7 linked regions of the Homo sapiens genome follow. The protein of the gene in region 6 purifies or fractionates together with the protein of the main gene of each other region. This does not show direct contact. Each region holds a gene or a part of one and is shown on either strand. Other genes may lie near its edges.

The links.
Region 1: the proteins of SLBP (region 6) and DHX15 purify together in Homo sapiens (affinity purification with western blotting, with the first as the bait; one study listed by BioGRID). This does not show direct contact.
Region 2: the proteins of SLBP (region 6) and YTHDC2 purify together in Homo sapiens (co-immunoprecipitation; one large-scale study listed by IntAct). This does not show direct contact.
Region 3: the proteins of SLBP (region 6) and CPSF3 purify together in Homo sapiens (affinity purification with western blotting, with the first as the bait; one study listed by BioGRID). This does not show direct contact.
Region 4: the proteins of SLBP (region 6) and NOP14 purify together in Homo sapiens (co-immunoprecipitation; one large-scale study listed by IntAct). This does not show direct contact.
Region 5: the proteins of SLBP (region 6) and CSTF3 purify together in Homo sapiens (affinity purification with western blotting, with the first as the bait; one study listed by BioGRID). This does not show direct contact.
Region 7: the proteins of SLBP (region 6) and EIF3C purify together in Homo sapiens (affinity purification with western blotting, with the first as the bait; one study listed by BioGRID). This does not show direct contact.

The regions. Positions count from the first base shown.
Region 1 is NC_000004.12:24,578,055-24,581,554, forward strand, and holds part of DHX15 (ATP-dependent RNA helicase DHX15), read right to left. Parts: intron 1-3,500.
Region 2 is NC_000005.10:113,551,694-113,555,193, forward strand, and holds part of YTHDC2 (3'-5' RNA helicase YTHDC2), read left to right. Parts: intron 1-1,487; coding exon 1,488-1,666; intron 1,667-1,896; coding exon 1,897-1,993; intron 1,994-2,073; coding exon 2,074-2,161; intron 2,162-2,248; coding exon 2,249-2,329; exon of another isoform or gene 2,330-2,339; intron 2,340-3,500. UniProt on the Homo sapiens protein: 3'-5' RNA helicase that plays a key role in the male and female germline by promoting transition from mitotic to meiotic divisions in stem cells.
Region 3 is NC_000002.12:9,440,654-9,444,153, reverse strand, and holds part of CPSF3 (cleavage and polyadenylation specificity factor subunit 3), read right to left. Parts: coding exon 3,488-3,500; intron 2,337-3,487; coding exon 2,178-2,336; intron 640-2,177; coding exon 493-639; intron 1-492. UniProt on the Homo sapiens protein: Component of the cleavage and polyadenylation specificity factor (CPSF) complex that plays a key role in pre-mRNA 3'-end formation, recognizing the AAUAAA signal sequence and interacting with poly(A) polymerase and other factors to bring about cleavage and poly(A) addition.
Region 4 is NC_000004.12:2,956,907-2,960,406, forward strand, and holds part of NOP14 (nucleolar protein 14), read right to left. Parts: intron 835-3,500; coding exon 700-834; intron 1-699. UniProt on the Homo sapiens protein: Involved in nucleolar processing of pre-18S ribosomal RNA. Has a role in the nuclear export of 40S pre-ribosomal subunit to the cytoplasm.
Region 5 is NC_000011.10:33,098,981-33,102,480, forward strand, and holds part of CSTF3 (cleavage stimulation factor subunit 3), read right to left. Parts: intron 3,360-3,500; coding exon 3,197-3,359; intron 738-3,196; coding exon 628-737; intron 171-627; coding exon 54-170; intron 1-53. UniProt on the Homo sapiens protein: One of the multiple factors required for polyadenylation and 3'-end cleavage of mammalian pre-mRNAs.
Region 6 is NC_000004.12:1,698,820-1,702,319, forward strand, and holds part of SLBP (histone RNA hairpin-binding protein), read right to left. Parts: intron 1,252-3,500; coding exon 1,192-1,251; intron 883-1,191; coding exon 745-882; intron 1-744. UniProt on the Homo sapiens protein: RNA-binding protein involved in the histone pre-mRNA processing.
Region 7 is NC_000016.10:28,717,964-28,721,463, forward strand, and holds part of EIF3C (eukaryotic translation initiation factor 3 subunit C), read left to right. Parts: intron 1-312; exon of another isoform or gene 313-3,069; intron 3,070-3,500. UniProt on the Homo sapiens protein: Component of the eukaryotic translation initiation factor 3 (eIF-3) complex, which is required for several steps in the initiation of protein synthesis.

The sequences.
Region 1 (3,500 bases), about 23 Mb from region 6:
GAAAAGTGATTTTCCCCTCTTCCATCCCAATGTTCACCTTCTACAAAAATCACAGAGCATACAAGCCAGAACTGTATGAAGCCTCTCATTTCACCTGGCATAAACAGAAAGAAAATCAATGGGAAAGAAAAGTCAAAGGATAACTTAATAAACATAAAATGAAGTCTCACAATTCAATACTTGAGAGTCTGGACCTATCTTCTGAAATATGCCATCAACTATCTTTGCTTCTCCTGCTTCTGGCCTAAGGTGACTGTTAATTAAGTGTTTACATTGCTCCAAAATGCCAACGAGGTGTAGTTTATAATAAGAGTACACAGAAATGTGCCCAGCAAAGTAAGAAGCACTGTACTCACAAATGGTTCAAATACTTGACACCTTAAAGATCATGGATCATACAGCTAGAAAAGAACTCTTAAAGAACATCTGGTCTGAACAAAAAGGATTCATGTTTCTAGTATTCACTCAACCATGGGGGAAGGAGGAGATGACAAAAAATATAATTGAAACAACTTCCTTTTTTTTGAGATAGGATCTTGCTCCATTACCCGGGTTGGAGTGCAGTGGCTCACTGGATCATGGCTCACTGCAATATCAAACTTCTGGGTTCAAGTGGTCCTCTCACCTCAGCCTCCCGAGTAACTGGGACTACAGGCATGCACCACCACGCCTCGCTAATTTCTTATTTTTGTAGAGATAAGGGTCTCACCATGTTGCCCAGGATGGTTTTCAACTCCTGGGATCAAGCAATCTCTTGCTTCAGCCTCCCAACGTGCTGGGATTACCGATGAGCTACCATGCCCAGCCTAGTTTAATGATTTCTATACTTCTAGCATAGTACCAGGCAATTAAGACATGGTCAAGAGTTACAAAATTTGGGGGAAGAGAGGTGACAAAGTAAATCATGTATTATATATTGCCTTAGTTTGTTAAAGTAATACCTATACTAACAAAGATTTTTTCAGGGGCCCACTTCATCAGATGCTTCATTACCAAACCAAACAAAGGATGTATAAAATACATTCTAAAGATAAAAGGTTAGCTGCTGATCAAGCAATGGCGACAGCTGTGGTATTAAGATAAAAGGAATGCTGGAATCACCATTGCAAGACACTGCCTCAATTTACTGATCTGCAAAATGAAGAGCATTTTCAGATACTTTTAGTCTCAGATTAAAGTAAGAAAACAGGGAGGATGCAGGAGGCAAATTCAGACACCTGGAAATGTTGCTTATGGCTCAAACTACCTTCCTTCGATGAGAGAGGGAGTACAAATGAAAGGTGAGTAAAAGGGGAAAATCAAACCCTCCACTTCATAAATATTTGTCAACTATTGTGCACATGCGTGTTTTCTTTTTTAAAAGATACTTTTTATTATAAAGGAGTTTTGTTCTTAAAAGTTTACTAGTTGAAGTATAAGGGTTTTTAAAAACTGGTATCAAGTCAGTGCTTCAGACACAGCCACACCACGAGCAGGGAGGGAGGTATGACATGACACAGTTGTTGAACATACTGCTCTGTACTGTGTCTCAGTTCAATCTTGGCTCAAGACTTAAGCCAACTATAGGATCACAGTTATTTCTTCCCTCACCTATAAGATGTGGCTATCAATATGTTTTGTAGAGTATAGATAGGATTAAATGAGTTAATATATGTGATGTGCTTTAAGTGTTGTCTGGCACATTGCAAATGCCCAATATCGGTTGTTGTTGTTATTATTACTATTATTTTGAGACGGAGTCTTGCTCTGTCACCAGGCTGGAGTGCAGTGGTGCAATCTCAGCTCACTGCAACCTCTGCCTCCCTGTTTCAAGCGATTCTCCTGCCTCAGCCTCCAGAGTAGCTGGGACTACAGGCACATGCTGCCACACCCAGTTAATTTTTGTATTTTTAGTAGAGACGAGGTTTCACCATGTTGGCCAGGATGGTTTCAATCTCTTGACCTCATGATCTGACTGCCTCGGCCTCCCAAAGTGCTGGGATTACTGGCATGAGCCACCGCGCCCCACCAATATTGGTTATTATTAAAGATCTTTTTAAGTTCTAATACCATGTTAAAATTCTACATGGAGGGCAAGACCTAGTGACTCACGCATGTAATCCCAGTGCTTTGGGAGGCCCAAGTGGGAGGATCACCAGAGGCCAAAAGTTTGAGACCAGCCTGAGCAATACAGTGAGACCCCATCTCTACAAAAAAATTTTAAACTTAGCTAGGTGGGGTGGCACGCCTGTAGTCCCAGCTACCTGGGAGGCTGAGACGGGAAGATCACTTGAGCCCTGGAATTTGAGACTGCAGTGAGCCATGATCACACCAGTGCACTCCAGCCTGGGAAACAGAGGAAGACCCTGTCTCTAAAAAATAAAAAAATTCTACATGGAATAATAACAGGCACTGAAGTACTGCTAAGGAAGACATTAACTGGTCATCAAAATCATGATATTTTAAATAAGCATTGCTTTTTTTTTTTTTTTTTAAAGACAGTCTACCTCTGTTACCCAGGCTGGAGTGTAGTGGTGCAATCTCGACTCACTGCAACCTCTGCCTCCCAGGTTCAAGCAATTCTCCTGCCTCAGCCTCCGGAGTAAGTAGCTGGGATTACAGCAGTGCGCCACCATGCCCAGTGTATTTTTGTATTTTTAACAGAGACAAAAATAGGTTTTATTACCTTGGCCAGGCTGGTCTTGAACTCCTGACCTCAGGTGATCCATTCGCCTAGGCCTCCCAAAGTGCTGTGATTACAGGTGTGAGCCATCACACCCGGCAATAAGCACTGCTTTTTATCCGTCAATCTTATTTCCAGGAACCTCTCAAGGATGTGTGCAAATACGTATGTATAAGGATGTTCATCAAACTTCTCATTTATAAAATAGCAACAAGTGGAAAACTACCTAAATATCAATGAACAGGATATTGGTTAAATAAGTGATGTCATACCTTTACAACTGGAGTACTATGGCAGTCAATCTATTTATTTTTTATTATTTTTTTTTTTTTGAGATGGAGGCTCGCTCTGTTGCCCAGGCTGGAGTGCAGTGGCACAATCTCGGCTCACTGCAAGCTCCGCCTCCCGGGTTCATACCATTCTTCCTCAGCCTCCCAGAGTAGCTGGGACTACAGGTGCCCGCCACCACACCCGGCTAATTTTTTGTATTTTTAGTAGAGACAGGGTTTCACCGTGTTAGCCAGGATGGTCTTGATCTCCTGACCTCGTGATCCACCCGCCTCGGCCTCCCAAAGTGCTGGGATTACAGGCGTGAGCCATTGCGCCCGGCCTATGGCAGCCAATTTAAAAGCGTAATGTGTACCTACAGTTAATGACATTTCTGAGTGGAAAAAAAAATCAAAGTACAAAATAACACGCGTTGATCCCACTGATATTAAATTTTATAGTTCATATTTTTGAGTCAATATGCAGAGATCTTAGAAAATGTTCACCAAAAACTGTTATCCAAAGATGGAGATGAAGATTTTAGGGAATGCCTTCTTTAAACCTTTGAGTA
Region 2 (3,500 bases), on a different chromosome or scaffold from region 6:
GTGTATACCTATGTAACAAACCTGCATGTTGTGCACATGTATCCCAGAACTTAAAGTATAATAAAACATTTACAAGAGCCAATTATTAAGTTGTAGAAGTTTAATATTTTTCCCATTGAAAATAGTCTTACGTTATTTTTCTGCTAAATTCTTTAAGAGAGATTGGATTTATTTGAACTTCCTAGAAATTCTGTTGATAATTGCTAGTGATAGCAGTAGTTTACATTTTTACATATAAGATGAAGAAGCAAGGCATTTATTTCAGTAATTTATGTTGATTCTTGCTTTTGGAAAATAGCATAATCAACTTGCTTTTAGTATAGAATTTTCTAATTAACAGTCATGTTAAGTTGGTACCTACTGAGTTTTTTAAAAATGTGAACTATACATCAGAATATTGTTTATAGTAGTAAACAATTAGATACAACCTATTAAGAAAATATAAATGATAGCTGAAAGTTTGTGGTTTTTAACAGTTTTATTGAGATATAATTAATATACCATATAATTCACCCATTTAGGTGACCAATTCAATGGTTTTTCATATGTTCACAGACTTATGCAATCATCACCACAATCAATTTTAGAACAGTTTCATCACCACAAAAAGAAACTTGTACCCATTAGGTGTCTCTCCCTATTCCGCCCCAACTCTCCTAGGCCTCCTCCAGCTTTAGACCAACCACTAATCTACTTCCAGTTTCTATAGATTTGTCTATTTTGGACATTTTATATAAATGAAATCATGTGATATGTGGTTTTTGTGATTGGCTTTTTTCAGTTAGCATAAAATATCCATGTTGTAGCACTATTTTTATGACTAATACATATTCTATGGATATACCAAGGTTTGTTTGTATATTTGTCAATTGATGAACACTTAGGTTGTTTCCACTTTCTGACTATGAATAATACTGGTATGAATATTTGTGTACAGATTTTTATGTGGATATATTTTTTTCATTTCTCTTATATATACACCTAGGAGTGGAATTGCTGGGGCATATGGTAACTCTATGTTTAACCTTTTGAAGAACTGCCACATTGTTTTCCAAAGCAGCTTTACCATTTTACATTTCCACCAGCAATGCATGAGGGTTTAAATTTCTCCACACCCTCTCCAACACTTGTTATTGTCTGTCTTTTTGATTGTAGTCATCCTAGTTGGTGTGAAGTGGTATTTCATTGTGGTTTTGATTTGCATTTCCCTGATAGCTAATGATGTTGAACATCTTTTCATGTGCTTATAGGCCATTTGTATATTTACTTTGGAGAAATGCCTTCAGATTGTGCTTTTCTAAAAGCATTCATTGCCAAATTTTACTTTGAATAATGTGCTTGAAATCAAAACATGAATCATATTATAGCTAGGACATTAAGTGTCACTTACCTTACCTTCCTTAGGGAATATTGGAAATTTGAAGGACATAAGGATTACTTTTGTTAATGGAAATTGACTTTGTCTTTTTTTTTTTTTTTTTTTTCAGTGCTACACTGGAATTTGGAAATCTAGATGAAAGTTCTCTGGTTCAAACAAATGGAAGTGACCTCAGTGCTGAAGACAGAGAGCTCCTGAAAGCTTATCATCATAGTTTCGATGATGAAAAAGTAGACTTGGATTTGATCATGCATCTTCTATACAATATCTGCCATAGTTGTGATGCTGGTAAATACGTGTTGTCTAAAAGAACTGGAGCAAAATATATACTTTAAGAATTAATATTTTAAGTGTACAAATTTTTATATAATTGCACTGATAGTAGTAAGTGAATAATCTCCTGTCATCTTATGATAGTTTACCAGTACTTGAAAACATGTGATACAGATTTTTATAATTCTGTTGATTGCCTCTGATTCACAATGAGATTTAATATTAAAAAGTCATTCTTCTCCAAGGTGCAGTACTAATTTTTCTGCCTGGATATGACGAAATTGTTGGACTGAGAGATCGCATCCTGTTTGATGACAAGCGGTTTGCTGACAGTACACATAGGTAAGGGCTAAAGCCTTATATCTGTTGCTTAAAATAACGGACAGGTCTTATAGTATGTTTTCTCTTTCAATTGTCTGCAGATACCAAGTCTTTATGCTTCATTCAAATATGCAAACATCCGATCAAAAGAAAGTATTAAAAAACCCACCTGCAGGTGTTCGAAAAATAGTAAGCTTCATAAAATCTTCTTTTTAACACTTTCATTAGTTATTTTTTCTGTTTTTTTATTAACTTTAAAGTAATATCTTGTTGCAGATTCTTTCCACCAATATTGCTGAAACCAGCATCACAGTCAATGATGTTGTCTTTGTTATTGATTCTGGTAAGGTGAAAGAGGTATGTATGGGTAAGTTGTAGTTTTACTTAAATGAAGAAGATTAAGTTCTACTTCAACAAATACTTTTATTTATTATTTAGTTGTTTTTCTTTTAATTTTACCTCTACTCAAGACAGCTTGGACCAGCGCATGCTTTTATAAGCAGAATTTACGAAAAATGTCTGGTTCTAGATAAATTTAACATACTAAATATTGATTTTACTAAATATTCTGCCTTAAATAATTCAGTATATAGAATCAATTTTTGTTATTTTAACAAAGTATACAAAAATGTAGCTCTGCTCACCAAATACTAGGAAGAAAGTAAAGGGTTTGGTTAGTTATAGTGAAAATGTTGTCACACAGTATGGGAATTTGATTACATATTTTTTATGTTTTCCTTCTACATATGCACATGGATTATGTCTTTGTTCACTGTTAAATCTTTAGTGCCTCACCTATAGCAGGTGTTCAAAAGATACTCAGTTCAAGAGAACCATGCTGAAAGAAAGCAAAGAAATAGATAAACCATGGGATAACCAGCAGCTAAATTGGACTTAACACTTGCTTTTGTAAAAAAAAAGTTTCATTGGAACTCAGCTAGTCTACTTTTACCTTTTCTCTATGGTTGCTGCCTTCATACTGCAAGGCAGATTGGAGTATTTGTAACAGAGACCCTCTCAAAGCCTAAAATATTTACTATTTGAAAGTCCTTTTCAAAAACAGCCAACCTTTGTTATAAAAAAAAAAAAGCCATTTATTTCCTTTTAGTACTGGAATGCCCAGCAGTTGTCCATGTTCCTAACTTTTGGTAGATAACATTCGCTGAAAAAATGAAAGTGGTAAAGATAATTGATTTTTCAAGGGAAGACATATTACTCATGTGTGGAAAGCAAATTATATCTATTTAGTGGATAAAAATGATCGTTTTTAATGTGAAAAAAGTAATTGCCTTATGTTTTCAATGTAATTTTAAGGAATATTTTATAGAAAATAAAATTTTATTATAAAAATTGGCCATATGCTTTATAATTGAATAAAGGTGGGATAAATTTTATTTTTATATAATAGTACATTAATGAGTATTATCACTAAAAATCTTAATGGTGAGCCAATGAAAATTCAGATTTTATTGCCCTAAAATTACCTAAAGTGGATAAAGTGGGTTTTGAATATTTTAGAAAGTTCCTT
Region 3 (3,500 bases), on a different chromosome or scaffold from region 6:
ATATATATATATAATATATATATTAAGCATTTACTATGTGCCAGGCACCATATTAAGTGCTTTAGATATGTTCTTTCACTTCATCCTTACAATAACCTTATGAGCTATTATTCCTATTTACAAATGAGGTACAGAGAGGTTAAGTAACTTGCCAAGGGTTACATAGTAAGTAAGAGATGGAGCTGGCATTCCAAATGAGCAGTCATACTCCAAGCCTGGCTCTTAAATTATTGGAGAGGCAGCAGAAAATAACAGAAAAACATTAGGATTGGGGTTGGTAGGTCTGAGTCAGTCAGTTCTGGAGAAAGGGGGCAGCTTGCTGAAATCAAAGGGGAGTTGTAAAGGCCAAATCCGAGTGCATGTGAAAGGCTCTGCTCAGGGGGTGTCGCATTAGTAGGTGATGATGCCTGCTTTGTGAACTGCCTGCTGCACAGTTTCCTGGGTATGCACTTTTTTTCCCTTTAATACAATAAATGAAATTCATAGACTAACCACATGAGGCGGTTTCAAAGCACGAATAAATTCACTGGTTTGCTGGTAATCCGTGTGAGCTGAGAAAGAAATGTAATCAACAGACATTTTCAGTGGTAACTTCTGTCCAGACATAGTAGTGATTTCTTCAGGTTCAGACATGATGTGCTGTGGAAAATAAAGAAAAATAACAAAACAAACTACCCAGTTATAATCGTAAAGGTACATTTTCATTTTTTTCATGCAGTCATAAATTCATGTTAAATTTAGGACCTTACGCACAAAATCATTCTAATATAACTGACTCAGTAAATATCAAATACTCATGTTCTCAATCAAGCAAACATTTAATGAGAAAAGTAAACAAATTAACTAAAACTCATCTATCTGGAGTGCTGGCAGTGAGAATCATAACTCTTATGCTTAGAAAGACAAACCTGTATTCCCAACTATTCTTGTGCTCTCCAAAGTCATTTCCTAGATATGTGGATATATTTCTATTCTGAAAATCTTTGTTTTTTCAAATAGGGTCTCACTTTGTCACCCAGGCTGAAATGCAGTGTGCGATCTCAGCTCACTGCAGCCTCGACCTCCTGGGTTCAAGCAAGCCTCCTGCCTCAGTCCCCCAACTAGCTAGGACTACAGGCACGTGCCACCACACCTGGCTAATTTTTGTATTTTTTGTAGAGATGGGATTTCTCCATGTTGCCCAAGCTGGTCCCCAACTCCTGAGCTCAAGTGATCCACCTGCTGTGGCCTCCTGAAGTGCTAGGATTACAGATGTGAGGCACTGTGCCAGGCCTGGAAATTTTTTTTTTCTTTTTTTTTTGGAGATGGAGTCTTGCTCCGTCACCCAGATTGGAGTGCAGTGGCGCCAATCTCGGCTGACTGCAACCTCCGCCTCCAGTTTCAAGCAATTCTCCCTGCCTCAGCCTCCCGAGTAGCTGGGATTACAGGCATACGCCACCACGCCCAGCTAATTTTTTGTATTTTTAGTAGAGACGGGGTTTCGCCATGTTGGCCAGGCTGGTCTCGAACTCCTGACCTCAGGTGATCCGCCCGCCTTGGCCTCCCAAAGTACTGGGATTACAGGTGTGAGCCACTGCACCCAGCCTGGAAATCTATTTTAAATACAACATTGTCACTAAAGAACTTTATAGAATAAGGTAAAGTAATAAAGATTATCAAAGAATCATATCATATTTTTAAAAATAAAATAGAGGATGAGAATGTGATGCCTGGATGCTCAGAAACTGCCTCCCAAGTTCTGCATATATTTTCTACAATTTCTACATCCCTAAGAGCTGAAAATCAATGTTTCATAATAGTAGAAAGTGGTCAACCCAAACACATTCTACAGCTTTTTAAGATCATATGTATTAGTCAACCTCTTCTTCATGAGAGGACGGAGAGTATTCACGTGTTTGTCTCAAACAGGTTCCTGTCCATTCTTCTCTACTTGCAACCAGATGAGCATTTCTCAAACTTTAATGTGTATATCAATCACCTGGGACCTCATTATGCCATTCAGTGTCTGCATAATTCTACATCCTACGCACATCTCTAGCTACCTATTCCCGTCCTCATTTTTAAAAATCAAAACTTGTATTATTTGAAGAACTACTTCAGTGCAAAAACCTGTGAGGACCGTGCCACCTCCGTGATTCTGAATAGGAATAACACAACAGCCTATGACTGTAACTGACCTTGGCAAGTGTCCCTTCTACACAGTATCCCGCTATAATGACACCATTCCTCTTATCAGTACACCAGCTTTCAAATAATTCTCTGGATAAGCCACTTTGCATCATGCCTGGGGAGGCCATTACAACACTGGGACCAATGTCATCAAAATGATCCATGCTCTAAGAGAGAAAACAGAATGGGAAAAGTATGTTAGCTACCAGCAGCTGACAAAGCATTCTTTCTTTTTAAAGAATAACAAAAGGCTAAGAGATTAATCACATCACTGAAAGAGCCTTCACAAGATCTGTAAACATTTTAAGTTCAGTTGCCAAATTCCTAAACAGTTTAGGCTAGGAATGGTAGAAAAACCAAGTAATAAAAAGCGGTAAGTTCACCCCGATCTTCAAAACCTTCTGTTGGTAGCTAGAGGGCCATCAGAACCATCAGGACCATCTTCAGCGCCTAGCAGGCAGGCAGAAAAGTAAAAGGAAGAGTCAAATGGGTCTTGATCTACCCAAGACACAACTCTGAAAAAATATTCCCAAAGACTCACAATAGCTTTGCATGCTCCATGCATGTTTTGAGCTGGCCTGGAAATCAAAAGGTTTAACATTGTTCTAGGGAGAACTTGTCTACAATCCTTAAGCAGTTAACTTAAAATAAATACTTTATGAACAAAGCCTATTTACAACTGGAAGTCCACTTTTAAATTATTTCGGATATCAATTATTTTATTATGATTCAAGCATCGAGTTAAACAGTATTTTTTAAATTAAATAAAATCAGATTTTATTGAATGCTTCCAGAAAAGTATATAAAAATTTTCATATATAGAATTTGCAGCACTAATCAAAAAGATGATTTGGTTTGAGTGAGAAGAGAAACTTAAATACATAATACAAAATATTTTTCTCCTCAGAACTTTTTATGCCTACGGCAAAAGAGATGAGTATTATAAATACTGAGAACACATGGCTACTTGGGGCAAGTGGCAAAATCTGTTGAAGCAGAAAAAGAATGTCAGCTGCTGAAGTTTTGATTTTCTGCAGAAAAACGACACCTGTTGAGAAGCGGTAAGACTCCAGCAAGAGGAATTCAGCCAGAGTCACTGACAAGCACTGCCTACGATTTTTATTTTATTTTGATAGAGACAGGGTCTCACTATCTTGCCCAGGCCGGTCTCAAACTCCTGAGTTCTAGTGATCCTCCTGCCTTAGACTCCCAAAGTGCTAAATTACAGCTGTGAGCCATCACTCACGGCCTCGTACCTCCTACTACTAATGACTGATTTGGTTTTATCCATCCTTGTCTTTCTTCCACAAGCACTCACCTTGAGGTTACTA
Region 4 (3,500 bases), 1.3 Mb from region 6:
GAAATATGACAACGAATCCTAAGCAGCCTTAAAGAGTATTTTGGGTCAACTAAGCAATGATTCATGATTCAGACAGAAATGAAACTCATGGAGGGTAATTCTTTTTTTTCCTTCAGACAGAGTCTCGCTCTGTTGCCCAGGCTGGAGTGCGGTAGAGTGATCTGGGCTCACTGCAACCTCTGACTCCCTGGTTCAAGTGATTCTCCTGCCTCAGCCTCCTGAGTAGCTGGGATTATAGGCATGCGCCACCACGCCTGGCTAATTTTTGTATTTTTAGTAGAGACGGGGTTTCATCACGTTGGCCAGGATGGTCTCGATCTCCTGACCTCATGATCCACCCACCTCAGCCTCCCAAAGTGCTGGGATTACAGGCATGAGCCACCGCGCCCGGCCTCATGGAGGGGAATTCTTAAATAAGCCCAGGGGCCAGTTTCCACTCCAGCAATGCTGCTCAGCTGAGAACTCCTGTGCACACTGCTGCCGTGTAGTAGAGTTAAGGCATTTATCCATTCAGCTAACATTTGCAGAAGAGGTTGCTTCTCCTTTGGCCTAGCCAGATAAGGCACAGGATTCGAGGGCTATCCCCTGGACCTTCCGAGTGCCCAGGAACATGCAAAACATGCAGAGTCAGCCTTCTCCTTGGCCTTGACTTCCCTGTGAAATGTACAGCAAAAACCCTCCTCCAGTTTCTTTCCATACCTGCTGTTCCAGAGCAAACCTCTTCATCATCTTCTCCTCGGGGCTCATGTTGCTGTTGTATTCTCCGAAGCGTTTATCTCTGAATACATTGGATTTATCCCTTTCTTTGTACTCTTTTAGTAAAGTCTGTGTACGCTGGAAAACAGGTCAGAAACAATCTCACAAAAAATTCTTGTGATTTCCACTACAGGGGACATCAGAACAGTGCATACTTTAAAGTTCAGGGCTATGCACAGTGATGTCAAAGTTCACACCCAATCTGCTTTCATGCACGATAGGCTTTCTCTACTAATCACAGAATTTTGAGAAGAGCAAAACAACTTTCAAGGATAATGGGGCAATCACTTTCTTTTCTTCTTTAGAGTCTACCGGTGCCAAAAGGAAGGGTAAAAAAGAACACACTAGTCAAGCTCAAGGCATGAATGGCTCCCTCGGCTGTAACAGCTGCCTTAAGGTTTAAAACGTGCACATTTGGAAAAGTGGAAATGGGTTTAGACTCCTTCCGTCATGGAGGAGGGTACTATTTCCCATCAAAGGTACTCCTAAGAAATGTGTAGTTGTGAGTTCATACTAGACACAAGGCAATAAACAAGTTAGCGAGGTCACAGTTTAGGGGCTTCACCTTTATAACACCAAGAGGAGCAATATTTTAAATACGGTTAGCAAGTATCAAATAATTTGGTTATTTTCCCAGCAGCAACAAAAAAAGACCAAGTTTAACAGTATTCAAAGTTGGCTGTCCTGGAGGTTGAATTCCCTAAAGAAAGCTGTGAGAGGACAGAGATGGGTGAGGAACGAGTGGCCTCTGCAACCTGAGATGGCCACATTGCAAACTCTTTCTTGCTGCGGAACTTCTTCTATTTGCTAAGGAACTGCCATTACACTGGTGTTTACACAGCAATTCCGAAAGGAAATGGCATCAAGGCAAAATCTTGATGCCATGGAAGGCCCTTGGAATGATCCAATTCAGTGGTTTTACAAACCCACCACAAATCGGTGCCTCGGCAGACATTTGAAACCTCTCATCTAACCCGACTTAAGTGTTCCTTGCCTTCCTCAGGGATTCCTCTAATTTGTGAAGTCACTTTGAAAGAATGCGTGCGTGTGGCAGGAGGGAGCGTGTGGTGACTTGGTCACTGCCACTCTGGTTCCAAGTTCTGTTTCAGGAGGGGACAGGTCAGATTTTGCTCCAGACATAGGTCACTTCCCCAGGGTCGGAGATGAACTTAAAGGCTAAGAAACCCAGATTTAAGGTCAAAACCAGGAGCTGGAAGAGGAGGAAAAGAGAGTGGAAGGGGTTAAGAAGCAGCTGGGCAAGAGCAGAAGATGCTCCAGCAGGGACAGAAGCACGACCTGGCCCTCCTTTCCATTTAGAGCACATTCCATCTGGAGAGGTCAACCGAAATATTAATCATGTGGACAGGAGAAAAGGATGTGAAAAAACCATTTCTCTTATCTCACTTTGAAATGTGAAAGTGCTATTATTACACTTAAAATGCATGAAAAACCCCTCTGCTACCTGAAGAGTAGGAAACCATCCATTAGTTCAATAAATACTGCCAAGGCAATTTTCGTCATTTTCTTCAAGAATATTTCAAGAACCAATTTGTTTCAACTGACACACGCTGAGTTATTAATCCCTAGTAACTTCTAGTAACTTCCTACCGTGGCAGTGCTAAACAATGTTTGTTAAAAACACCTTTGGGGCCGGGCGCGGTGGCTCACGCCTGTAATTCCAGCACTCTGGGAGGCCAAGGCGGGCGGATCACGAGGTTAGAAGATCAAGACCATCCTGGGTAACATGGTGAAACCCCGTCTCTACTAAAAATACAAAAAAATTAGCCGGGTGTGGTGGCGGGCGCCTGTAGTCCCAGCTACTCAGGAGGCTGAGGCAGGAGAATGGCGTGAACCCGGGAAGTGGAGCTTGCAGTGAGCTGAGATTGTGCCACTGCACTCCAGCCTGGGCGACAGACAAAGACTCTGTCTCAAAAACAAAAAAAAACAAAAAACACAAACAAACCACCTTGGGTACAATTTCCTGAACCAGAGTCTAAAGACAGCGAGTGTCCCCAGATAGACCAGAGGGCTCCATCGCCATTGCTCTGTTCTCTCCGCTTCTGTTACGAGCCATTCCAGAGCGAGATCCTGCTGGATGCTGATAGTGAACCACACACAGTACTGAATCAGGTTAAGCTCTCTGAACCTTCACCATTCTTTATCCGCAGAGCAAAATTTTAAAACAACATCTCACTATTTAAATCACAAGGTCTAGCTGGCAATCAGATGGGAGCACATTACATGTGCTAGCCTGTACTGCTCGATGAACTCTGTACGGACAGAGGCTGCTTGCATGCTACACTGAGACCTTTTTTTTTTTTTTTAAAGATGGAATCTCGCTCTGTCGCCCAGGCTGGAGTGCAGTGGCACAATCTCAGCTCACTACAACCTCCACCTGCCGGGTTCAAGCAATTCTCCTGCCTCAGCCTCCCCAGTAGCTGGGATTACAGGCGCACGCTGCCACGCCCAGCTAATTTTTTTGTATTTTTAGTAGAGATGGGGTTTCACCGTGTTGCCCAGGCTGGTTTCGAACTCCTGAGCTCAGGCAATCTGCCTGCCTCGGCCTCCCAAAGTGCTAGGATCACAGGTGTGAGCCACCAAACCCAGCATACACCGAGAAGACTTCTGAGGTCTGTCCCTGCAGAGGGAGGGAGTGTCACTGGCTTCTAGCAGGAAGGGGGTAGATGGGGCAGGCATCAGCCATCTCTGCCTCTAAAAATATTAGTTCTCATTATCTGGAATAT
Region 5 (3,500 bases), on a different chromosome or scaffold from region 6:
AGTCCTGCACTAAAAAATTGAATTATAAGAAGGCTCTAAACATTTTTACTTACCTCTTCATAATCTGCATATGCAAAATAAAGAAGCATATTCTTCTTCAATAAAGTGCTTATGGCTCTTTCATATATATTAGCAGCTTCATCACTAAATAATTTGGCATTATTCATATCCTGGTAGAAAAAAAAGAAAGCTCATCTTCAATAATTTTAATATAGTTGTGAGAGAATAAAATTAATAAAGTTACATCTACTTTATTTTATTTATGTGTCTAAGAAAGCATACATGTATGTACACACATATATATGTATCCACACACACACATACATAAACACATATGCATTTCTGGATTCTAAAAAAATTCCAAAAACTCCTTTCATTATTTTAACTTACAAAATAACCATGCAAGTACTCTAAATGATTCATTACTTTGATACGTTAAAAAACTGCCAGTTTATTTTAATTCTAAGGAGGTCTAATTATATGAGTGTCACTAAGATTCATATGAACGTAAACTTAAATTTTCAATACTTATGCTTTATTACCAAAATTCAGTTATATTTTTCAGTAAATAATTGCTATATCAAAACCACAAAAATATCAAAGTGGGGATAGGGAAGGAACACTTACTCCCTTTTCTGCGAGCAGTTTACTTGACTGCTCAAGATACTGGGCAGCTTCATACCAAATATCAGGGTGATGGCCCAGCACAAGCAGGCACTGTTCATAAGCAAACATAACTAAGGGAAGAAATTAACAAACAATATTCAATTAAAATAATTATTATTTGTAAAACTATCAATGTAAATATCATAACCAAATTAGGCTCCTCAAAAATTAATGATAATTAGAAATAAAAAGCTTTAGTGATTTCTGGCACCATCATCCATCCAAGTTCCCTCCATCTATCCATCACTTATTAATTTTTTTTATTTTTGGAAGCAGGGTCTCTGTCACGTAGGCTGGAGTGCAGTGGCACAAATATGGTTCACTGCAGCCTCGACCTCCTGGGCTCAAGTGGTTTTCCTGCCTCAGCCTCCCAAGTAGCTGAGACCAGGCGTGTGCCACCACATCTGGCTTATTTTTAAAAATCTTGTGGCCAGGTGCGGTGGCTCACATCTGTAATCCCAGCACTCTGGGAGGCCAAGGCAGGCGGATCATAAGGTCAGGAGATCGAGACCATCCTGGCTAACATGGTGAAACCCTGTCTCTACTGAAATACAAAAAATTAGCCAGGCATGGTGGTGGGTGCCTGTAGCCCCAGCTACTCTGGAGGCTGAGGCAGGAGAATGGCATGAACCCGGGAGGCACAGCTTGCAGTGAGTGGAGATCACGCCACTGCACTCCAGCCTGGGCAACAGAGCAAGACTCCATCTCAAAAAAAAAAAAAAAAATCTTGTTTAGAGACGGGGTTTCACCATGTTGCCAAGGCTTGTCTTGAACCCCTGGGCTCAAGCAATCCTCCTGCCTCAGCCTCCCAAAGTGCTGGGATTACAGATGTGAGCCACTGCACCCAGCCTAAGTTAATACTTATTGAGCACCAACTATATGCCAGGGAATGTGGAAGGCACGGTGAATATACCAGTGAGTAAGACTTCCTATATTCAAGAAGTCTGCAGTATACGGGGAGGACAGACAGAAAGCAAAGATCAAAAGGATTATGATGATGAAAGTACAGTATACTCTGAAAACTTACAGCAGCAGGACTTAACATAGTTTAGGGACTCAAGAAAGGCTTCACTAAGGAACTGACATCTAGCACAACACCTGAAGAAGGGATGAAGCTGGTCAGAGGCAAATAAGTGAAGTGGAGTAAGGATGGGGTAGATACAAAAATGGAGTGGGCAAAGGAAACAATATTTGCAAAGACCTGCAAGTAAGATAGCAAGGCAACAGCAAGGCAAGATTGAGGAATTCAATAAAGCTCCAAATTAAGAGTCTGGCACTGACAGAGTAGTTTGTATCAGACCAACCCTCAGCAAGTAAAAATTATAAATAAACAAAACACAAATACAAAAGCAACTATCTAAATGTACTGGAAATGACCAAAAGAAGCAGAAATCAGGAGACTGAGCCCTTAAAAAGACAGAACAACACTAGGTGAGATCCATATTTAAATATGGCTTTTCCCTTCAAACGCATGCCCATGTTGTGCACTTCTGGGATAGCTAGAACTCAAGTCAAATGCTGCAGTCTTACTGTCTTGAAGTAACATGGAGTTCTGGCCTATGAGAGCAGCTGGAAATTGAGGAGACATCCCCAAAAGGAGAAAGCCAGATCCCGAAAATCTGGGCATAAATGTTCTCAAATCCTCAGCTGATCCCTAAAATGTACATACACAGGGAAGAATACAAACAGACCAGCAGAAAACAAAGCTGGAAGGCAGAAAGAGTTAAATAGATACCTCAGCAACTAAGGGAGATGAAGTTTAGAATTTGAGTCCGATCCAATTAGATGGTTGGGGTAAACACCTTAGACTTTTCATTGTCTTAGGAGTAAAGACTATGTCCCAAGAATAAGGTATTTAATCTGAGATTAATGGTAAAACTAAAACAGACCTGTCTTCATAGTATAAAACTAAGCCTCCACAAAGTCCAAGTAATCTGACAGTAGTATTTAACTTCCTGCTAAAATAAAACATTCTTCAGAGGAAGATGACAGAATCTACAGTCTTTACAATGTTTCATTTGTACATTTGTACAATATCTAAAAGAAAAAATTTAAACAGGAAATAGGGAAATGTAAACCACAGTCAAGAGAAAAAGCAATCAAAGAAAATAAACTCCATGGTGGTTGAAGGCCCAGATGTTGGAATTGGCAGATGAGGACTTTATAACTACTATTATAAATATGTTCTAAGAAACAAAGAAAAAGATGGTAATGAACACACAAGGAATCTCAACTAAGAAATGGACACCATAAAAAAGAAATATAAAAAATAAAAAATTTCTAAAATGGAAATTTATAGAATTGAAAAATATAGTATCTGAAATAAAGCGTTCACTGGATGGGCTTAATTGCAGACTGCATATGATGAAAACAAAGGTTCAGTGAATATGGAGATAGATCTATAGGAATTATTGAATCTGAAGAACAAAAGAAAAAAAGATTAGGGGTAAGAAAATTTTAGTAACCTATGGGGATACCAAGTGGCCTAACATACATGTAACTGAAGTCCCATGAGGGTTAATCATGTTACCTCTTTTTGTTATAAGGGTCTGATCCTCTGTACGAAGAGGGTTGCTCTTTTCCCACTGTATATATTTCTTCCACATATCTACTTGTTGAGCTTCTTGAGGAGTATTCTGAGGAGGCACCGAGGGAGCATTACGGTCCAAGCCTTTCATTACTGTCTCATATTCCTAGACAACAAGGATTTAGAATTCTTTGGTGAGCCAGGAACAACTGAGATATATGGCGGATGGGGTAGATCAGTTTGGAAGACTGTTCAAGATGCCTACTTTTTCCAAATACCACTTTGTTAATATAATCTAAAAACTATT
Region 6 (3,500 bases):
ATACTCTGCAGCCCAGGCTGGAGTGCAGTGGTGTGATTAATGGTTCACTGTAACGTTGAATTCCTGGGCTGAAGCAGTTCTCCCACCTGTCTCCCAAGTAGCTGGGACTACAGGTGCAAACCACCACACCTGGCTAATTTTTAAATTTTTTGTAGAGATGAGGTCTCCTTATATTGCCCAGGCTAGTCTCCTGGCCTCAAGCAGTCCTCTCGGCCTCCCAAAGTGCTGGAATTACAAGCATGAGCCATTGCACCTGGCCCAGAAATGTAAATTTCAACCCCAATCCTGCCAAAAAGTTCAGGAAAACACTAAAGCTTTCTTTATATCCTTCTGTGTCTGTGTGTTTGAGGGACCAGGATAGGCAAGAACATGCTGCTTAAAGACAATAGGGCAATGCCAATTTTTTTTTCTCCAATTAGAATTTTACAATATTTAACTTGAACTTCATTTTTCCCCATCATGTATTTTAATAAGCTTACATCTATGATTGCTGACTCCTAAGAAATAAAATGTTATCTAACATTCAAAATTATATGAAAATGATTTTTAAAATCTTCATGTCTTTAGTTTTCCAGTTGCCAATCCATTCTTTATTTACGTCATAAGCCCCAGTAAGTCCCTATTAAATAGCTCTTAGCAGGTGTGAACTATCCCCAGCATCATTTGTACTACCCAATCTAAGCAACTCTTTAGAAACGCAATGCCACACAGCTTGTTCAAGACATGCCACTGAAACAAGACTACCTTGGGACTTCTTTAATATAACGATCGTAGGCAATTGTGTTCTTCCCATAGTTGATCTGCTTCTGTCTCCTCATTAGGACACTTTCATCTGTCTCAAAGTCAGCCGGCACAGTAGACATAGACTCCTTTGAATCAGAACTGAAAAAACAACAGATTAACAGAATAAGCCCTGCAATTAAGATCACCATGTATGTAAGGTAAGCCAAGAAAATGTCAAAACACAATAATGGAAGATTCACTCCAGATTCCCAACCATATGAATCCTAAATAGTCCGGAGACTGCATGTATGGGAATTTAGTACACAACAGATACAGTATTTCAAATTAGTGAAAAAGGTATTAATAAATGCTACTGCGACAGTCAGCATTTCTGACAGTCACAATTTTTTTTTTTTAACAAATTACAGGTCTATCAAATTAGAAAAGAAACATTTACACAGCCTTTACCTTCCTGATGATGATTTTCTCTCTCTTCCAAAGTCATTGATGAGGAGTTTCCTTTTATATCTGAGGGCAAAATAAATATTGCTGTTTTTAAAAAAGATATAAAAATAAAGCAGCCAGGTCTGAGGAAGCTCCACCCTGATGCCCGCAGGCACACCATCCTATGCAATCCAGAAGCTCCGTGGGCCAAAAGAAATCTTTGTCAGGTTCAGTTTAAGTAGTGAGATCCACACAACAAAAATTTACATTCCCTAAAACTTGGCAGCCTTAAAAAAAGAAAAACAAAACATAAATTGAAATAAATTATTTTAAAAACACCAAACTTACTAATGGGACTCATATGCCTACTGGGCACTGCATACCTTCTCCAATCCTGGAGACCAAACGTGCCCCCTTTTCTCTTGTTCCTCATGAACTTCCTGAGGCATCTGCTTTCTATTGCAGTCATTACCAGAACGCAGTTTTGCAAAAAAAAAAGTATGACATCTCCAAAAGGAGTCTAGCGCAATCTGACGTTGAAACCACGAGCTACCTTGAGCTCCAAGTTCATGTGAGTATCTTTTTTTTTTTGAGATGGGGTCTCACTCTGTCACCCAGGCTAGAGTACAGTAGCACGATCATGGCTTACCACAGCCTCATATTCCTGGGCTGAAGCAATCATCTCACCTCAGCCTCCCAAGCAGCTAGGACTCCAGGCAAGTGCCGCCACAACCATCTCCAAAAAAATTTTTTTCTTTTTTTGGAGACATGGAGGTCTGTGTTGCCCAGGCTGCTCTTGAACTCCTGAGCTCAAGCAATCCTCCCGCCTCAGCCTCTCAAAAGTACTGAGATCAGGAGTGAGCCACCACCCCTGGCCTGTCATGCAGGTATCTAAATTATGTCATGTATTACTGTGCCTCCTCTCAAAATCTAAAATCCACCCAAGTTTGCTGAGGTGTTCAGTGCAGTTTGGACGCCAGAAGGTAATGAAGTAATTTATCTCCCGTGCATCTAGAGTAGCACTGGCTATATAACACCATCTTTGTACGATTCAGAGATTAGTCCTGCAAATCATTTGCTGCAGGGCCTCATTCTCTCCAGTACCACAGATGAGAAAGACTGGTTTTCAGGTATGATGAAAATCCATTTTCTTTTTTTTCTTTTTTTTTTTTTTTTTGAGACGGAGTTCCCTCTTGTTGCCCAGACTGGAGTGCAATGGCGAGATCTCGGCTCAGTGCAACCTCCGCCTCCCGGGTCCAAGCGATTCTCCTGCCTCAGCCTCCTGAGTAGCTGAGATTACAGGTTGCTGCCACCACGCCTGGCTAATTTTTAGTATTTTTAGTAGAGACGGGGTTTCTCCATGTTCGTCAGGCTGGTCTCGAACTCCTGATCTCAGGTGATCCGCCCGCCTTGGCCTCCCAAAGTACTGCGATTACAGGTGTGAGCCACCATGCCATGCAGAAAATCCATTTTCATACTCTTATATTGCTAGTTTGTAGTCTGTTAGTCTCCTTAAAGCATAGTAAGCTGACATTTCATACCGCTCTTACTGTCAGGAAGTAAGCCGGCCTGTCAGTAATGGCTCACTAAAGGGCCAGCAGTTTAAATTACACAGGTTGCACTAAAAGCTGCAGCTTTGGCCAGGCAAGGTGGATCACGCCTATAATCCCAACACTTTGGGAGGCCGAGGCGGGCAAATCACCTGAGGTCAGGAGTTCAAGACCAGCCTGGCCAATATGGTGAAACCTAGCCTCTACTAAAAATACAAAAATTAGCCGGACGTGGTGGCACACAGCTATAATCCCAGCTACTCGAGAGGCTGAGGCAGGAGAATCGCTTGAACCTAGGAAGCGGAAGTTGCAGTGAGCTGAGATTGCATCATTACACTCCAGCCTGGGAAACAGAGCAAGACTCCATCTCAAAAAAATAAGTAAGTAAATAAAAGCCGTAGCTTTCCATCACAAAGGGTATAATCAACAGAGCAGCCCAAACAGTGCTGTTTTCCAAAACAGGACAATTTTCAGGCACAGACCCATGAGATATCTGAAGAACAAATAGGGTCCACTCACAGGACAATCTGGACAGGTGGAATACGCATGAATAAGAGCTGCAGATAACCCCTGGCAAGGGGTGACTTGAGGGAGCAACTAGGCTATCGGTATGCAAGAACTGTTCTAAGACTTGTGCATGCAACACAAACTATACAAGTCAAGTCAAACATTCTAATTTTATAATTGAGGAAGTCAAGACCTATATAAATGCAATAATTCACTAAAAACACTGGTACTCTCATCTGTGAACTCCTAGTTCATTTCTTCTACCAAGGCATACAT
Region 7 (3,500 bases), on a different chromosome or scaffold from region 6:
AAGGCAGGAGAATTGCTTGAACCCGGGAGGCGGAGGTTGCAGTGTGCCGAGATCGCGCCATTGCACTTCAGCTTTGGGCAACAGAGCAAGACTCCGTCTCAGGAAAAAAAAAAAAAAAAAAAAAAAAGAGTGTCTCTTAAGCACAGCTAGGTTTTTGGTTTGTTTTTTTTTTAATCTCATAAAATCTCTGCTTTTTTTTTCTTTTATTGTGATACATAACATTTCCCATTTTAACCATTTTCAGGTATACAAATCAGTGGCATTTAGTACGTTCACATTGTGCAATGACCGCCAGAACTTGATCTCTGCTTCTCTGGCAATTTAGTTCATTTACGTTTATTATAGTTATTTACATATATATGATGGTTATTTATATATGTGTCTACATAATTAGTTTTTATCAAGATGGGGTCTTGCCCTGTTGCCCAGGATGGTCTCGAACTCCTGGGCTCGAGTAACCCTTCTGCCTGGGCCTCCTAAAGTGCTGGGATTACAGGCGTGAGCCACTGCGCCCAGCCTATTGTGGTTATCAATGCATTTATTCTTACCATTTTATGGTATCTTATACTTTCTGTTTATCCTCTTTATTTTAAATTTTGTAATAGCTTTATTGAGGTGTACATGACATACAATAACTGCACTTGTTTAAAGTTTTTTTTTTTTTTTTTTTTTTTTGAGACAGAGTCTTGCACTGTCGCCCAGGCTGGAGTGCAGTGGCGCAATCTCGGCTCACTGCAAGCTCCACCTCCCGGGTTCACACCATTCTCCTGCCTCAGCCTCCTGAGTAGCTGGGACTACAGCCACCCGCCACCACGCCTGGCTAATTTTTTGTACTTTTAGTAGAGACAGGGTTTCACCATGTTAGCCAGGATGGTCTCGATCTCCTGACCTCGTGATCCACCCGCCTCGGCCTTCCACTAAGTGCTGGGATTACAGGCATGAGCCACCGCACCCAGCCTTAAAGTTAAATTTAATAAGTTGTGACATATGTTTACACCCATAGAACTCACCACAATCAAAACATAATATCCTAAAAATTTCACACCTAAACATTTCCACCTTCCCCTTTGTAATACTTCTCCCTGCCTCAGTTTCCTCACCCTATCCCTGGGCAACCACTAATTTGCTTTCTGTCACTAGGTAAGTTAGCATTTTCTAGAATTTTATGTAAATGGAATCAACGGTATATAATTTGGAGGGGGTAGTTTCTTTAATCATAATTATTTTGAAATTCATTCTGTCTTCTAAAGATTGGGCATCTCTAATTCCAAAGTCTGAAACTTCTGGAGCACCATAAGTGGACAATTCCACATCTGACCTCATGTGACAGGTTGCAGTCAAAACTTTGTTTCATGCACAAAATTATTTAAAATACTATGTAAAATTGCCATCAGGCTGTTTGTATAAGGTGTAGATGAAACACACAAATTTCATAGTTAGACTTGGAGCCCTTCCCAAGATACCCCATTATATATATGCAATTATTTGAAATTTGAAACACTTCTGGTTCTAAGCATTTCAGATAAGGGATATTCAGCCTGTATTTTATTTTTCTTTTATTTGTGTGTTTTTTGTTTTTGTTTTTGAGAAGGAGTCTCACTGTGTTGCCCCGGCTGGAATGCAGCGGTGCAATCCTGGCCCACTGCAACCTCTGCCTCCTGGGTTCAAGTGATTCTCAGGCCTCAGCCTCCTGGGTAGCTGGGACTACACGTGAGCACCACCACGCCCAGCTAATTTTTATATTTTTAGTAGAGATGAGGTTTCAGCATGTTGGCCAGGCTGGTCTTGAACTCCTGACCTTAGATGATTCGCTCGCCTCAGCCTCCCAGAGTACTGGGATTACAGGCATGAGCCACCACACCTAGCCTACATGTATTTTCTCATCCTCTTTTTTTTTTCCCCGTTTCTAGTTATATATATTTTCTTATTATTCATTTTGTTTTTTTCTGCTGGTTTGGGAGTTAGACGTGCTATGCTTTTAGAGGTTATTCTTGAATTTTTTTTTTTTTTTTTTTGAGACACTAGCCTGTTGCCGAGGCTAGAATGCAGTGAGTGGCGCAATCTCGGCTCACTGCAAGCTCCGCCTCCCGGGTTCACGCCATTCTCCTGCCTCAGCCTCCTGAGTAGCTGGGACTACAGGCACCTGCCACCATGCCCAGCTAAATTTTTTTGTATTTTTAGTAGAGACGGGGTTTCACTGTGTTAGCCAGGATGGTCTCGATCTCCTGACCTCGTGATCTGCCCACCTCAGCCTCCCAAAGTGCTGGAATTACAGGCGTGAACCACCGCACCCAGCCAAATTTTTTTTTGTTAACCTGTAAACTAACTTGTATACCTAATCAGAATAGTCTAAAATTAGTTGAATCAATGTTCTGAGGAAAACCCTTGAGAAAATAAAGTTAGAATTTCAAGTGTCAGAATCTTTTTGACATTGAGAGTTTGTGGCTTTGTAGTGTAGAAGAATAATTCACAGACACTATTTCACTTGTGTAACAAGGGAGACAGATTTTCAGATTAATTTCCAACCGAGCAAAAGCAGGATTTATATAGGAGAAAGAGGAACAAGGAGAGAGGGCAAAACCACAGAACAGTGGATTCTGTTTGCCCGTTTTTCTGTGTAAACTCTGATATTAACTCTCCTTGAGTATGCCACCCAGGGTTGGTGGATGCTCTAGAAAACACGATAGGCCCTCTGCCAGTAAGGGTTTTCAGCAACTCCAGATTCAGCCAGTCTAAATATACCCTTTCCATCATCAGCATTTCTCAGCCTTCATCTTTTGGTCAAAACAAGCTTGTAAAGGAGTGGGTTTATTCTCATGAGCTTCAGCCTCTTTGATGTGGGATAAGGCCATCTGTTGTCTTATGGTGATCTGAAGGTATTAGGGGGAAGTTCATCTATACCTGATGTCATGATTGACCTGTGAACTCTTTTTCTTTTTTTCTTTTTTTAGATGGAGTCTTGCTCTGTTGCCCAGGCTGGAGTGCAGTGGTGCAATCTCATCTCACTGCAACCTCCGCCTCCCTGGTTCAAGCAGTTCTCCTCAGCCTCCCAAGTAGCTGGGATTACAGGCACGTGCCACCACGCCTGGCTAATTTTTTGTATTTTTAGTAGAGACGGGGTTTCGCCGTGTTAGCCAGGATGGTCTCGATCTCCTTATCTCTTGATTGCCTGCCTCGGCTTCCCAAAGTGCTGGGATTACAGGCGTGAGCCACTGCGCCCAGCGACCTGTGAACTCTTACAGAGCTGCTGTCTACTTCTAAGAGTTACCTGATTCTGGAGGCGTTTTTTTGTTTTTGTTTTTGTTTTTTAAGTGAACCCCAGGATCTCTAGTGAGACTGAATGTCCGAGTTAGGATCCTAAGCAAGGGTATACATCTAGGGCTTTCCATCAGTAGTTGTGGTTGGGAAGGCATGGGAAAATGGTGTGGTCCTCTGCAGTGTAGTTAGGCCTGACTTCCGTTGGTGTCTCTCAATAATGAGTTTTTAGTCTCTTAACTATG